2 separate regions of the Homo sapiens genome follow, and region 2 is linked to region 1. Evidence: fine-mapped expression QTL. A gene starts in region 1. The other region holds a variant in brackets. All regions are shown on one strand. Distances are between the middles of the regions.

Region 1 (8,604 bases):
TCTGCCATATGGCAGAAACAATGTAGGAATTTATTAAATACACATGGTGGGGAAAAAATTACCTTCTGAAACACAGTCCATCCATTTCCAGACCCATCGATTTCACAGTAGACTAAGAATTGCTGGTTAGCTTTCAGAGGTTTAATAAAGTAAAGCCCGCTCTGTTTAGCTCCCTTATTGGCAATGTCTTGACAATCTAGAGAAGGAGAATCGACTTTTACTGTGGTTTGAAATGCAGGTAAGACTGTGCCAGCCTTGAAAAATAGCTTTTAACATGTAGTAAACTATTCATTTTCCAAGAATAATTTTCTTACTTTTCACATCAGCATTCCTTTTAAACTGTTTTTTTTAGCTATTCAAGAAAGGTCTAGACAACTGAAATTCTTAGACTTAATGGGTAGCCACTTTCTAAACTATTCCTATACTTTCCAGTACATACTTTCTCCTTTACATTACTTACTTTGATGAACCTAATCCCAATATAACCTTCATCAGTTACCTTTCCCAGTGATATCATGGATTTGCACCGTGTCTTTGCAAGGTTCCTGGCACTGTGCTTCAAGCTGGGCTACCTTCTCTTTCAGGTTAACAATCTTTTGATTATTTGAATTATATATTTCCTGCAAATATCTACAAACAGAAACATAAGATAACAAAAATAAGAAGACAAAAATAAGTATTCCTTTCAGAAGAGTAATTTTATATTTTCTTTGGAAACTGCTAAGTATTTTCTTAAGAAGTGCTTTCTGATAAATTATTCCATTCTTGAGGAAAATGTAAAATTATATTACTAAATTAACATGAATTAAAATTATAAACTTTTTGAAAAAGAAAAACAAATCAAAAAATCAATTAAAACAGGAATACAATGTGGACCTGAATCTTTTTACTTAGAATGGGGCATATTGTCTCAACTCCCAACACAAATAACAAAGTCCTTGTCAATAAGCAAATGTCATTGACATTTTGCTTTTTACTTTATGCATAAGGGACAGCAGATAGCAACCTGCAAGAGTGGCGGGACTGGTTAATAGGAACACCCCCTGATGCTTTAGAAGCAGGAAAAGCTCAGTTCAGTAATTCACATGTGCTGAAGGAGTATACCTTTCACTTGTGGATCTACTGAGGCTATACATATAAGCTTCAATCTAAAATATAACTTACACAGGGACATGATCTGGAACGTTATTGTATGTAAAATAAAACAACAGATACTTCCCCTTTCTTCTTTAATGCTTCTGGTTACATAGCTTTGGGAATGGACTGGGGGAAGTAAAAACCCTCCTTTTGTAGTTACTTACAGGGTGGCTTGCAAATATCCAAAAATGATAGAAAACTGTCTACAATGCATAAACCGTTCTTTCTTTGAAGTAAAAAAGGGTAGACAAACTATTTGTCCACGTTTTCCCTCTACCTTGTCTTAGGCAATTTCTGTACAATAACCTCCTTCAACTTCAATGATGGACAATAATAATGCAAGTAATAATAATAACAATAATAACAAGGGCCCTCTGATAGCAAAAAGAGGAGAAATCTTTCCTGGGCCACTTCTCCCTAGCTACTATTTATCTCAATTTCTCAAGCTGCTTTGAGAAAAATTCAGAAAAAAAAATTGGGGAAAAATATTAAAACTGTATCTGAGACCTTATGTTCAGAAAGTTTATGAGTCCCTGAGAAGCTTTAACAGAGACATTCACTTCCAAATGAAGGGAAGAGACTATGCAGGTTCATTCTGCAATGATCAATATGAGCTTTGCAATATTTGCCACACTTAGTCTCTCAAGACATGTTTCTTCCTGCTCCACATTCAATATAATTTACTTTAGGAGCCAAAATCCTTACTATGCCTCTGCTTGCTAATTTTTTTAACCACCAATTTGTCAGCATTTTTATAAAGAGGATTTTATTTTCAACACCCAAATTCCTATGAGATTGATTTTATGTTGTAAGATAAATGGGGGATGGGGAAAAAATTTTTGATAAATATGGTCAAACTAGCATTTGAAGACATCTAGAACATCTTTCTTCAATGTGATTATTAATAAGCAATTATAACCCAGTATAATTTATATTGCACTAAAAACTTCTATCTCTACTATGCTCAACATAATCAGGCATAATGTCACTGGGATATTATAAATGGGGAAAACACATTAAAAATTACTTTCACTCAAGTATAGAATATTAAATAAAAACTAAATCAGTCTTGCAGAGCAAATTAAAACAAAAATCCTTACCGAATACTTGAGTCATGTGTTAAAATCGATGCTTCATATTTCATAATTTCTTCTAACATTTTCCTGGACTTCAAAGTAGCAGCGTCTATCATATCTGTAATATAGGATCAGAGACATAAAAATCCTTAAGCAAATAGAACAACTAAAACAACAGCAAAAGAACTTCACAGATTATTATTATTATTTTTTGGTCAGTAGTCTTTATTTTCTCACTTGGTTTTGATGATTCATCAGGATTATAAGTGAGTTGGATTGCTTTTATCAGCTGTTTGACTTCTGATGTTTTGTTTTCAACTTGATGTAAGATGTCTTCCAAAGACTGTAGATCCTTGTCTACTTTGGTTTGATAAGTAGACAGGAAATCTGCAATGCCACAGGTAGTTGGACAATAACTACCCTGAAAATATAACAGTGATTAAAAATGTAGACAGATGCTACTCTTAAAATCTATTAAGAAAAATAGGTAAAACCTAGACTATGTTTTTAAAAAGTTACAAGTGCCAGATGATATTTATGAGGGAATTATTTCTATTCCTCTGCCCCTCTCCAGTTCACACACAAAGGGAGAAACATAAAAACTACTTACGAATCTTTCATCTAAGATGCAGCAGTTGTCTCTGGTAGCAACATACTAAAAGAGAAAAAATACAGAAATTTCACTAGTTTATTATCTGTTTTATTTTCCAGCTTTCCATTTTAAACAACGTTTTGTGAAGAGCACACTTACTGCTACACATGTTGAAGAGAGAAATAAAAGAGCATAGAAGTAGAGAATTAAATTCCGGGGGTGCAAGGACCAACTCATGATGTCTGAGTGCCCGGAGCTCCGAGCCTTGTAGTGTCAGCACTGTCACCTCTCAGGCTCCAATTGTCCCTTTATGTAAGCTCCTGGGATAGCCAGGACTGCAAATGGCTGGAGCTGATCACGGGGCCTCCTTACCAGAAGGGTGGGCAGGTCTTTCCCGTTCCTTTTTCCTCATCCTGGCCCCCAACCTATACTGTCAGGTTCCCAGATTTTGCACACAGGTTGAAGCTCCTCCTTTTTGGCCCAGCTCAAGGTTTTTTCTCTGATCCAAAATTATCTGCAAAGGCTAGTGAAGCATTATCCATTGCTGTGAGGAGGAGGGCAGTCCTGGAGGCTGTGTGATGCAACTTCTTCCAGTACATGGCTGAGAGCAAACAGATATGACCTCGAACTAAGCAAACCTAGTCTATCCTTAAGATGGGTCCTGCTGCCATCACCTGAATTACCAAAAGAACTTTCTTAGCTTAGGGATCAGTTAACACTATTATTTTAGCCTAGGGATCAGTTAACATTATTATTTTTAATCTGTGGCTGTGGCAGGAGGAGACTGACTTCCCCCATGTCCCAGTTCACTATTCCCAGGAATGAATGACCCTGGAAATACATTCCTGTCCCTCTGTGTCAACCATGTTCATAGGCTCTCACTTCTCAGGGAGCTTTTGAGCTCAATCTTCCCTTTGTCTGAAGGTGGGCATGGCACCCCATCTGCCACAGAGAAAAGAGCCAGGAGCCCACTTCATTGTTCCTGTGGTTCCATCAAGCTATCTCAGAGAAGAGAAAAATCCACCTCCCTTGTATCTAAGGAGAGTAGAGGCATAGCTGAAGGAAGGGGCAAAATGAGGTGCTGGGGAGGGGCCATCATTTCTGTTTGGCCCTTACAGCATCCTTGTGTTTGGGAAAACATGTCTGTCATCACTGCCTATTGAGATTTATCACTGGGCGTTACACTATTATTAATGTCTCTATTTTTGGTTATCCCTCATTTCTTCCTCTGGAACCAAGCTTATTATAAGTTTTGATGAAATATGTTAGTGGGAGAAATGCCTCCAGTTTGAAAGAAATACTAATACTTTAATTCTGTCTTTACAAAGGTATATTTATTGACTCAAAAACAAAGATAAATATTCATATTCAGTAAATAATCAATAATTATAACAAAGTGAACACATCAAAACCAGATTTGTTGCTTTTCTTCTCCTCCTTAATATATCCCTCTCTGACTTAGCAGTTATTGTCAATCATATCACCATACCACCAGCCAATTAAGTCTCACAATCTTTCTCATCCATCTTTTCCACTCAGCTAATCAGTTGTCAATCAAGTCAGTTGAATTAAACATTTAAGTATTAGTATTCTTTCAAACAGCTCTACCTCAGATAGCATTTGTAGCAACCTTATATTATATGTATACATGCTGTATCCACTGCATTAGATTGTAAACTGATTTCTGTGGCTACGGCATCTAACATATATAGCTGTACTTAACATAGTTGTAGTTAACACTCAATAACTATGTAATGACTTGAATCAGTTGCCTCTGTGAAGAAGAATGGGATGCAGAGGTGGAGGACAGGATTGGAAAAAAAGGCTTTATTTTTCTCTGTAAACTTTCTATATTTAGAATGTTGAATGTATATAAATATTATCTACTAAAATATATATAATGAAAATATGTAATTATTGATCATTCACAAAGATTTACATAGTACACTGATAATTACATCTTGCTAACTTTTTAATATGATTTGAACATGAAAGGTGACTCAGGCATTGCCTTTGCCTTCAAGAAGTGTGTAGCTCAATTGGAGAATGTATAAATAAATAGTTGTTAAGGCTCTGGAGTCCATCTCCCTAGGTTTGAGTCCCATCTTTACAATTTACTGGCTGTGTGATTCAGTACAAGTTACTCAATCTCCTTGAGTTCCATTATCCATGTCAGTAAAAGAGAGATAATACTTATGATATGGTATTTACTTAATAGGGCTATTACTAAGATTTAGTGGGATAATGTGTTGAGCACATTACCCAATTCATGGTAAGTGTTAAGTAAATGTTTGTAAGGTTTATGAATTACCAAATATATTTGGTATAAAATCTATGTAAATAGGAAACTCTTTTAATAGAGCTATTATTGGTAGATTTGGTTCACAGGGAACAAGCTTTGTTGTTCTAGCTACAGAAATTCTCTTTAATAAAAAATCTGTTGCAACTAACTGCAGTCTCCTTCTGTAAGATTCCCCAGAGAAGAAAGCACCTGGTCGTTTAGTTTAGGAAATTCTATCCAAATTGATTTTACCAATCAAAGATCAAATGATAATATAAATGGATTGCATGCCTTGTGAGAAGGTATACTTCCTATCTGTAAGAATGTTCAAGCAAAGTGTGTTTAGACAGAGCATGTCTTTGTGGTTCTTTTTGCTGAAGACCATAAAATATTAGTTTGTTGAATTTAGGGTAACAATTCATGCAGCCACAGGTTGGGTTCTGAGCTCCTTAATGTCATAAAGTTTCATTGGTTGTGTTAAGATATATAATATTCACAAAGTTGATAAACATTTAAATTGAGGACATTAGAAATTCTATCTTATCCCATTTTAGAAGTGGAATACTTGTATTACAGGCTTTTAACTGACTTATATTGGAATCCAGATGTGTTATCACAATTTTAGAGAAAATAATTTCCTTTTACTACAATCTCAAGTCCTAAATCCAAATCATATAAGACAAGATGCTTGCTCTCTGAGAAAAAAAAATGGTCAACAGTGATTTAGCGGTCTACATTGGCCCTGCATTCAATCTAGTATCACTTAGGTTTATTAAATTTTAACTAGTTTTTTCATGTTTGGGCCAATTTTTTCTTTGAAAAATGATAAATGATTGATGAATTCCAGGAATGAAGAATGTTTCTTAAATCACAGTTCTTCTACTTCCAGGTATGTTTTTTGAGATAATAGCATAGGTAGTATTTAAGCCAAAATAATCATTTACTGTAACTCTGAGGTCAGTGGGCTTGTTTATTGAAATAATAATGTCCCAAATTCCCTATCGTCCAACCGTTTGTGTTCTGATTTGAAAACACAAATCTACAGCTAACAGTCTTCGTGTATATTGGTAATTTACTCTGTGAGCCAAGTCTGTTACATTCATCTTTGCTCCAAAATTATTTGCTGAATTTAAATTTGATTATGTAGAAGACTTCTTGACCTAGTGACAAATGATATAGCCCTAAGGAATAATAGAAAGAACTACCAATTTTGAGCATCTTCTTTATGCTAGATATTATGTGGTAGTATAGTTTTTGTTGTCATGTATATTCTCTCATTTAATCCTCACCACAAGCCTAGGAAGTAGATATAATTACCTGTATCTTATAATGAAAAAAGAAAGGCCTAGAGATGTTGTGTAACATATGCAGGGTCAGTGTGCCAGAACAGGAACTCAAACCCATGGGGCCCAATGCCTGTGCTCTTAACCATGAATCTTAATACAACCATGAAGCCCTTCTTAATTTAAAATAATACACAGATACAAGGTGTTATGAGACTCAAAGTTATTCACTGATAGAATGGATTTTAAAGATGTGTGTGTGCATCTACATAACTGTGTGCATGATTATTTGAACACACATTTACATCTATCTACCAACTTATCTATCTTCTTCTCTGGGTTAGAGACAAGATTTTGTGAATGATCTTTTACAGTCTTTGAGTATTTCTCAAACCTAGATTTGTGTTGTTTTATGATTAGCTTGTGTTTATGGTCCTTTTTTTTTTTTCTCTCTCTTTAGAGATGCAGCCTAGCTTTGTTGCTCAGTCTGGCCTCAAACTGAACTGCTGGGCCCAAGTGATCCTCTTGCCTCAGCCTCCTGAGTAGCTCGGACTATGGGCACGTGCCAATGCACCTGGCTTCAGTCCAATTTTAGATGGAAGCAGTTTTTCAATGCTAACTGCATGGTTCAAGTTTAATAGGACTTGATAAATTGAATTCCATCAGTAAGTTAAAGGGAGAGACAGCCACTGCGTGGTCAAGGAAGCTCAAATCAATGGCGACAATGATATATCTGTTTTTCTAACAAGTAAACCATTTCTAGATCTAAGCTAAATTTATAGCCTGAACCCTCAGAACTGGATTTCCTAAAAACTGGCAGAAAGAAAATGACCTATTGGCATACTGAAAGCCAGTCCAACCTAATAGTAAAAATATCCCATTAAGGGCAACAGAGTTGTCTGTTAGAATATTTGCTTTGTGTATAAAAATAGCCCAGGGAAAGTGAAAACGCAAAAGTTTCTTGGTAGTCTGTGAACAATGTGCTTTTAGTTTCACTATGTAAATCAAAGACAAAAACAACATTGGGCACAAGTAAAATGGACTCCCTCACTGGCAGCAGAACAGCACCCACAGGTTGAGTTTTGCACTTCTTAACTTCATAAAGTTTCATTACATGTGTCATTTGGGGGATCTGTCCTAGCGGCAGGGATGTTGAAAAATCTCTGCTGTGATTGGAATTTAGGAAATAAAGTACTGGGTGCCTAGAGAAAGAAGGATTATCCCATTGGCAATTACAGAGGCCAAAGAGGCTGGAAATTAGCCATTTTTAATACTAGTTTGAGACTAAGGAATGATCTGAGGTGCCCTGGATTGAGACAAATTGAACAGAGAAGTTGGATTTAAGTGTTTTGCTGTGCCACATTGGTATCTGCTACTGGTTTGTTTGTGTTTTTCCATCTTTGTGTAATCTACGATTTTAAATCTCTCACCCCATGAAAGAATTTTCATGACTAAATATGATTAGCAGGAGATTTACAAGAGCAAATGAGTTTGGGGGGAAAAATAAACCACCACCAACCAAGGGGCCAAGTTATATTCACAAGAATGTGCTCCGGAAAGAAGAAACTTTTTAAGCCTTTGAGTAGAAATACTGGCCTATGTTGAAAGTGGACAGGCCCCTGTTTGAGAAAAACTGTAGTTATTTTGTCATATAAACTATCTTTGGAGGAATATATATATATTTCTAAAGAAGGAGAGAAAATAAGAAGAACAGAGAATGCTATCAGATCATCAAAGCAATTCAGTCATCTTATCTAGCTTAACGCACACATTTGCTTTAACCTGCAATTTTGAATGAGGACAAACAAAACATTTATAAGATTTAGATCTTTGTTTTAAATTCTAACTACTTGGGTTAGTTTATTGTCTTAGTGTAATTGCACTATAGTCCTTTCAAAGTTAAATCCATATAGGATTTGCTGTGTACAAAGGCTAACTTTCTATTGACATTTTGAAGGACTTTGCTTCATCCATGAAAGGTGACATATCTCTGTCTTCTTCAAGTGTAGATTTCTGTGTATACTTTACCTTGAGTGGTGGAGCAGTGACCTCTACTAAGTAAACAAAGATACGATTTGCAAAACCAGATTAAGTCAAAGACCCAAATATTTATTGAATGTTGTGCAAGAAAGCCTAGAGTGTAAATCACACTCTTGATGGATAACACTATGGCTGCAAGTTACCGAAGAATGGTCTGGCTTCAGGGCTGACCAGAGCAAGCTCATTCACAAAGAA
Region 2 (8,604 bases), 23 kb before region 1:
CAGCTTCCAGCACTGCTAGGGTTCCTGGGGCTTTCCGTCTCTGATCCGGTTCCATAAGAGGTGGAGCCTCCTCGAGTAATCTCATTTCCACCAGGTCTCTCTAACTCCATTCTCATCTGCGGCATGTCTGTTAATGCCTTCCACTCTGGGGGTACCTTCTGAAGCTGGCTCTTAAAATTTCCGGGAACCAAGTCTGGAACTGGTTTCATTTTTATCAGTGGTAAGTGTTGCCTATCTCTAGAGGGAAGTAAGTCTTTGGCAATGACCTGTTCAAGTTGCTTCTGCTGATCTTCATAGTCCTTCAGATCTACTTCACGAGCTAAAGCCCTACTGCATGACCCTCGACAAGATCGGATCTTAATATCAATGTCCACCTAGAGAGAGGGGAGAAAAATAAAGAGAAAATGTAGATACAAATACATAAACTACGTCTATTGAGTTCCTGGTAGTTAATTTTCCTTCTGGAAACTGGTTTCATTTTTTTTGACTCGGAGACCTACCACTTAATATTCTCTGTTTTCTGCCTATCGAGCACCCTCAGTGGAAGAGATGTTGGGTATTGCAGGGCTAGCCAGGATAAGCAATGGATGCTGTTTAATTCATCTTAGCCTCAGAATGGATCAAGAGTAAGGTGCTATTCCCTCTCAAAGGAAACGCTAATTAAATGATCCTTGGTGAAACTCAGGCTGAGGGCTCAGAGGTGTGGTGATGTAATGGGCTTTGGAATTAGACAGGGACTGAACATTTGCTTTTGAAATTTACTATCTATGTACCGTTGGAAAATTTACTTAATATCTCTGAATTTTTTTTCTTCAACTGTGGAGTGAGGAAAATAATACCTACTTTTAGGTAGATGATGGATATAACACTTTTCTCTGCATATAGTAGACACTCAGTGCATAACTATCGCCTTCCTTTTCCCTCTACTCAGAAACAAGGACATCTGGGACCACAGCCACATACTTACCTCCAGTCGTTTCATATCAACCAACTGAGCTCTAACATTTTTCTGCAGAAGCTGGATATGCTGTACTTTTTCTATGACTTTGCGCTTCAGGACTTCAATTCTGCTTCTCAGATCCTCTGACACTCGGTTGTAGGTATTATCACGGTCTGAAATCGAAAATATGGTTATTGAAGTAGCTGCTGAGTGATTTGTCTGTAATTGCCAGCAAAAAAGAAAGGAAGAAAGGAAGGAAGGAGAAAGAAAGAAAGAAAGAAAGAAAGAAAGAAAGAAAGAAAGAAAGAAAGAAAGAAAGAGAAAAAAGAAAGAAAGAAACTAGCTTGTAAATATGCCTAATTTTATTTTGGTTACAGTTTAATCTGTGAGTTCAAAACCTATGGGGCATTTGACTTTTGGATAATGTTATGCCCTGCAGCCTTCCATGAATGCCAGTTAAGATGTCCTAATAGCAATTAGTAATCCCAAAGAAATATAGAAGAAGAACTTTCTTTGGAATTTTAAAGGTGTAATTTGGAGTTAAAATAGTTGGTTTGATTGCATTTCAATTATTTTATAACATCCTTAATCAAGGGACTTGAACATATTGGATTTTCTTACTGATGAGCTTTTCTTTTTAATCTATAGATTTGAAATGGTTCCTAAGCTGTTTTGGGTCAACAGGATCACTCACTTGCCAGCTAGTGTTGCATCACTGATTTTAAATGTCAAGTGTTTGTGAAGGTGTAAAAAGGCAAAGCAAAACTTGAGAAACTGAGGACTCCCTAGACTCGCTGTCCATGCCCAGAGTGAATGCAATGTTTCCTAACCCTAATGAGTAGACTGTGAGAATGACGTAGCTTGACCCTATATTTTAAATTTAAAAATCTACCTAATCAGCTCAGTGGAGTCTGGGAGTTGAATTCCCAGCTCTGTGTCTTTGAACAAGTTCCTTGACCTCTCAGTTTTCACCTTTACAAAGCAGAAACAAAAATATCAACTCAAAGAGTCTGACCCATCCTACTTTCAGTATATACTGTTGAAAAGAACACATTTAAATTCTTGTTTTTAATCCAAAATTCTGACTTATTTTGTGACCTTAAACAATCTCAGTTAACATCTTTTACTTTGAAAAAATAACGAAAACAAAAGCTCCCTCTTAAAATTTTCAGGGATATTATGAAGGTATGTGTTTCTACACTAAGTACTTTGGGATGAAATTGTCATAGATATAAGCGGATATCATATTTATTTAGGATTTTTGTTGTTTCTGTTATAAAGTCAAAGCAGTAAATATGTAATACTTACTATTGGCTGAGGAAAAATCGCCTCTCAAAATTTCCATTATATTAGTGGTCAACGAATGAGAATCCTTATTGTTCTTCTGATATTCAAATAGTGAATTTTTGAGCTTATTTATTCTGTTTGTAAAATCTTGATTGACTTCATCAATCAACCCTTTCATCCTGCAGCCAGAAGGGCATTTGTAGTTCTGAAAGTGAAGGGAGAAAATTACAGTAAGGATCTATCTCTCAGATTCAGAATAATTTTGCATGTTTCCATGCAGCCCCCATTTCTTCCTACCCTATCTCTTCCAGATAAGTTGGCTTAAAAGTAGGTAAGAGGACTAGTTAGAGGTCGCAGAGAAACTCTGGAATGAGGGTCCACTTAGCCATAAATTAGGTGCCAGGAAATTGAGGCCACAATACTCAGGAGCCTGGTTTTGCCTGAGCATGCAACTGAAATCCTGTCTGTTCACCCACTAATGATCCAGAGTTGGGGAGGTAAATAAACAGTGCTCTTGGGAGTAGGTTCCTTTTCTTTATTTGCTATGTAGGTAACTATTCAATTATTTTCTATTTAAAAAAGTTTCTGGGACCAATCAGGTCAGCCTGTGAGCCCCTCTAGCATCAGAGGGAAGGAATCTCCTGCTTCCCCCGCTGACTGCTTACCCAGTCTTCATCAGAGCAGAAGGGCCAGTCTGAATCTTTGCAGGCAGATTGATGTCTTTCCACAACCCTTGGGCCACGCACGCCTCCTCCTTCAGCTAGAAAGTCACCTTCACCACTATCTGCAGTCTTTAAAGATTCATTCACATACACAAAAGAGAGCAACAGCAATGTTAGCCAGAAGAGGAGACAGTGGCATGCCTACAAGTCCCCAGGAAGAGATGGCACTCTCACAGAGATTAAGGAGAGCAGACACAGGGCTTCGGCAAGCTTCAGGTTTCTTATCTTCAAATGGAAATCCTAGGACCCATTTTATGGAGTTGTTATGAGAATTAAAGGAGACAAGGTGTACAAATTTCTTAACTGTGTGTGACACTTAAATAAGCATTTGATAAATATTAGGAGTTTTAAAGAATCCATCCTAAAAGGAAAATTATTTGAATCTATAAAATCAGTTAAATTTTACCTTTTCATTTTTACTAATGACTGCAGACAGAAAGTTGAAAACTACTGTAGAGCTCTTTCTCCTGTAATTGCTGCTTCAGTAGAAAAACCTAGACTATCTTAACTGAATGTTCCTCTCTCCTTCAAGTTTCTATGTAACCTTTAGAGATGGATTCATAATTTAAAAGAATACCATTACTGCGGAAAAGCGTATTGCCTTACTAACTAATCTCTTCTGATACTGCAAAGATATTTCCAAAGATAATTCGTTTGCTTTTTCTTCTGTCTTGACAAACACAACAATAACCTTTCAGCAAAACTGTACTAACACTAAAAGTTCTGCTTATTATGGACAAGTAGCAAGAAATTAATAACTAAAGAAAACAAATCTTACCATAAAATGTTTTATTCCATTAACTAGCATTATAATGCACCAAGGCTTTATAGGTACAAGGATGGCAAATAATTCTTGCCCTTTTTAAAACAAAACAAAACAAAATGTGGTAAGACTGAATGACAGATGCTAAAGTTTCCCTTGTGAGTTTGTACACTCTCATCCATCTAAGATCTTCCTCTTGGTGTCATATTACCCTGTATTCTTGAGGTGTCAAGCCCACCCAGGAAATTTCCTCCCAGGCCTGGGGTCATAAAGCTAAGAGTGTGTCAGGACATAGAGCAGGTAGACTCTGACCTCCAGGCTCTTTGTGGAATAAACACCAGAGAGAAAGCAAGAAGAAAAAATGAAAAGGGCCATACCCATGCTGTGCCCACCACACTTAGGACCAGGCAGACGATCCTCATGGAAAACATCTTTTCTAAGGGTGGGGCTGGCTCCTGAGGAGCACTCCAGCTGAAAGAAAGGATTGC[T/C]GCCACTCCTAGTTCCCATCCTATTTAAATCTGCAAGAGGTTTGGTTAATCATTGGCTTTGTCCTGTGTAGACAGTCAACCCTCCCTCTACGTCCTTTGTTCCTCCTATGCTGTTGGTATCCCAGAAATTCTTGCTCAATTCCCCTCAGCTTGTTTGCTTCCGATAAGCTGTTGCAAAGGTAGCATTTGATTCTCCAGTCAACAATTAGGAGATCTCACATTCCAGGAACAGGGTGGCTTTGAGAATGAAAAGAGGAGCATAGGAGGGTATATCCATATTTCTAAACGTGAAAGAATATAGAAGGTGCTTAGGTAAGCTAGCTGTAGCCCCCAGTAGTAGTGATTTAGCAAACAATATTTCACTTTATGCAGAAATTAGGGTTGGGTGATCTGGCTTATAAAAAAAATAACTTTGGGGATAAGCTGGCCCTGAAGGCTTTCTATAAGTTTATTTAGAACATATTACTTTTCTCTATTTAAAATATTAAGATGACAGCAGCCCCAGGAACAAAACATCTTGGGTTCATAATCCAAGCTGCACCACTTCCCTGCTCTATGTTCTTGGACAAGTTACTTTACCTCTTTATACTTCAGTTTCCTCATTTATAAAATAAGGATGCTGATAAGCTACCCCATGCTTTTATGAAGAATAAATGAGTTAATTCTTGTAAATCTCTCAGAACAGTGACTGTCACATAGGAAATACTCAGTGAATTATGGGAGATCATAAAGTGCCATGAAAAATACCATTTATTTCCTGTTTCTGTGCTAGCAATCTCATTTCTGAGTGTATTTCCAAAGGAAATGAAATCAGGATCTTGAAGAGACACCTGCATTCCCATGTTCATTGTAGCTATATTGACAATAGCCGAGATATGAAAACAACCTGTTTCCACTGATGGATGAGTAGATAAAGAAAATGTGTATATATATATATACACAATGGAGTATTACTCAGCCTTGAAAAAGAAGGAAATTCTGTCATTTGCAGTAACATTGATGAACCTAGAGGGCATTATCCTAAGTGAAATGAGCAGATATAGACAGACAAATACTGCTTAGCTGGTCGTGGTGACAGGCACCTGTAATCCCAGCTACTCAGGAGGCTGAGGCAGGGAGAATCACTTGAACGCGGGAGGTGGAGGAGGTTGCAGTGAGCCGAGATTGCATCATTGCACTCCAGCCTGGGCCACAGAGTGAGACTCCTTCTCAAAAAAAAAAAAAAAAACGGAAAAGAAAGACAAATACTGTATGATCTTTCTTACATGTGAAATCTAAAATAGTCAAACTCACGGAAGAAAAGTGTAGAATGGTGGTGGCCAGGGCCTGAGGCATAGGAGAAATGGGGGAGATGTTGGTTAGAGGGCACAAAGTTTGAGCTATGCAATATAAATAAGTTCTGGAGTCCAATGTGCAGCATGGTGACTATAGTTGATAATATTATGCTGTATATTTGAAATTTGCTAAAAAGGTAGATCTTAAGTCTTCTCACCACACAAAAAGATAACTATATGAGGTGTTTTAAGTGCTAATTAGATTAATAGTGGTAATCATTTCACAATGTTTATGTGTATCAAAACACCAATCAGAGAGAAGTTCCCCTTTAAAGGAAAATAAAAAAACAAACATCCAGCTGTACAACCTAAATTATGCAATTTTTATTTGTCAATTATACTTCAATAAAGGTAAAAAACATCTTCAGCTTACATTTACCAGATGTATTAGGTTGGCGGAAATAGCAAATAAAAATAAGAGTGTCCCAGTTAAATTTGAATTTCAGATAAACAACAAATCTATTTGAGTATAAGTATGTCTCATGTGATATTTGAGACACACTTAAAATTTTTTTGTTGTTCATCTGAAATTCAAACTTTACTGGACATCCTGTACTTTATCTGGCAATCCTACCTTGCCTCAAATTCTGCTTCCTACATGAAGCCAATCCTAATAGAGTAATAGCTAATGTGTATTGAATGTTTACTAAGTCTTGGGTTCTTTGCTAGACATTTTGCAGGGTACCTGATTCAATGTCCAATTAAAAGGAATCTCATGTTCTTTCATACTTCCTTAGACTGTGCACCACTAATGGCATTTATCATTATAGGAGTACCGTCTGTCTCCTCCACTAGATCATAAACTTGAGAATTGAAATGTTTTATTGGTCTTTATATTCTCCCCAAAAGGTGTGGGCCCTCATTGAGCAAGAAAGCATAAGTGGGTTCCAGAGATGCGAAGTTGCCTGGCTGCCTCCCCCAGCACTGCAGACGTGTGAAGCTTTCTATAAATGGATGGAAGCCCTGGTGCAAGGCAGTGCACTGTCTGCTCTATGGAAGACTCCTTGTCTGATCAAGCTCACCCCTGAAGCAGCTTGCTATGATTTTAGAGTTAACTGCAGAGCAAAGAGGAAGCCCCAGAGCCCCATCCAGGTTCCAGAGGGCAATGATTCCATGAAAAGCTGGGTTACACTCACTCACAATGACTGCACTGGCAAAATGTCAGGATTAGATAGGAAGGTGAGGCTTGATCTCTGCACACATTTTCCTATGCCCACAAGAAGTGCCCCTTTGGGAGGTGAACATGGTATATAGCAAAGAAGTTCCCGAGAGTAACCTGGTAGGCCTTAGGTGAGTCGGCTGAACATAATCTGATTGAAGGTAAATTAACAGAAAACAATTTGGTTGAATGCCACCACCCTAGTGCCATGTCAGGGTGTTTCCAAGGATGCCACCTGAGGGCTTTATCCTTGCCTCTCAGAATCAGCACATCTCACACCCTTTCTTACTCCTGGCCTCTGCTCACATGGCATCTACTCAGAGAGGCCTTCTCTGGCCACCTGATCTAAAGAGCTGCCACTCTCGCATGTCATTCCATTGACTCTGCTTGGTTTTTCCACGCAGTACCTTATAACTCCTGGACAATGTGCATTTGGGAAGGTATTTGTTTATTCTGTGTCTTGCCTACACAAAGCTTCCTGAGGCCAAGGCACAAGGACTGGCACAAATGTCAGGCATAGAGCAATTGCTGCTCAGTATCTGCTGGAGAAATGGAAGGCTGTCACCATATGGTGGTGACAATGCATGGTGGGCTTTCCAGCATGTGAGACCTGGATTCCAGCTAAGTGACATGGGCAAACTATTTAAATTCTCTGAGCTATAAATGGGATGATGATATTTGTCTTACAGGATTGCTGTGAAGATTATGTAAAATGGTGTATGTAAAATGTTGGCCATACACAGCAGGAGCTCTAGAAACAGTAGCTTTTATTGTTCCTAGAATATCCCAATGCTCCATGATAAAATGTTCCCTTGTTTTGACTGTAGTACCAGGAGTCCCTAATGAGGCACTTCTGTAGCTCACTGTTTGGCCCCACACTGCAGGCTGCTCACTAGGCTGGGCTCTCTGCCCCATGAACAGGCTGTATTGTAAGCTTTGGAGGAGTAGGTTTTGTTTAGCTGGAAAACCATGCAAATTAATAGGCATGATACGAGTATCATTTTTTAAAAAGCATGTGACAATAAGCGTATCTTTAAATGTGCAAAACTGGAAAAAAGATGGAAGAAATTTTCAGTTGCTTAAATTATAATCTGCCGTGCATTGGCTTTTTCTTTTTGAGATGGAGTCTCACTCTGCCACCCAGGCTGGAGTGCAACAGCGCCATCTCAGCTTACTGCAACCTCTGCCTCCCGGGTTCAAGCGATTTTCCTGCCTCAGCCTCCTGAGTAGCTGGGATTACAGGTGCCCACCACCATGACTGGCTAATTTTTTGTATTTTTAGTAGAGATAGGGTTTCCCCATGTTGACCAGGCTGGTCTTGAACTCCTGACCTGAGGTGCTCCACCCACTTCAGCCTCCCAAAGTGCTGGGATTACAGGCATGAGCTACTGCACCAGGTTTGTCTTTTTCCTATAGATAACTACATCCTATTTACCTTAGCTCTAATGAGAAGGATGTTTGATATATCTATCCTTTTGAAGTTAATGTAATATAAACATTTAAATATAAATGTTAATATAAACATTTGAATGCAGGAATTTACACATTTGTTATGCCATAACTTTTGGCATGACTAGAATAGTTTTTACTAGTTTTAATAGCTTTATTTGTGTGGTATATAATGTATACAGAAAGAGTAGAAATTCTATAGCTATATGTTTCAGTTTTAAACTATATCTACTCATCACAGCTTCCACAGGAAAAGTAAAATATATAACCAGTTATCTATATATTTGCAATTGTATAAATACAACTTAAAAATACAAAACAAAACAACAGTGTTATTTTGAATGGAATATTTGTCTTACCCTGGGCTGACACCAGAAATTAAATGCATTGATTTCTGAGAGCAGCTCACTCATTCACTCATTTGTCTAAATTTAGCAATCATTTATCCTATGTATATTATTT

Alleles and levels. Positions count from the first base shown, and alleles are read on the strand shown. Sizes are in standard deviations (SD) of each study's normalised expression.
For the expression in lung of the gene that starts at base 3,089 in region 1, allele C in region 2 goes with a higher level than allele T (small effect, 0.26 SD a copy in GTEx).

The links.
Region 2: its variant is fine-mapped to the expression of FGG in lung (GTEx, PIP 0.94).

The regions. Positions count from the first base shown.
Region 1 is chr4:154,609,568-154,618,171 of GRCh38, forward strand. It overlaps FGG (fibrinogen gamma chain), which reads right to left and starts at 3,089. Exons shown (of 9, transcript NM_021870.3): 1 at 2,965-3,089; 2 at 2,824-2,868; 3 at 2,451-2,634; 4 at 2,238-2,331; 5 at 500-630; 6 at 63-196. The coding sequence starts at 3,042. RefSeq lists enhancers at 3,131-4,303, 7,289-7,438.
Region 2 is chr4:154,586,545-154,595,148 of GRCh38, forward strand. It overlaps FGA (fibrinogen alpha chain), which reads right to left and starts at 4,198. Exons shown (of 5, transcript NM_021871.4): 1 at 4,090-4,198; 2 at 2,893-3,018; 3 at 2,249-2,432; 4 at 968-1,113; 5 at 1-374. The coding sequence starts at 4,143. The variant T/C (reference allele first, on the strand shown) is at 4,201.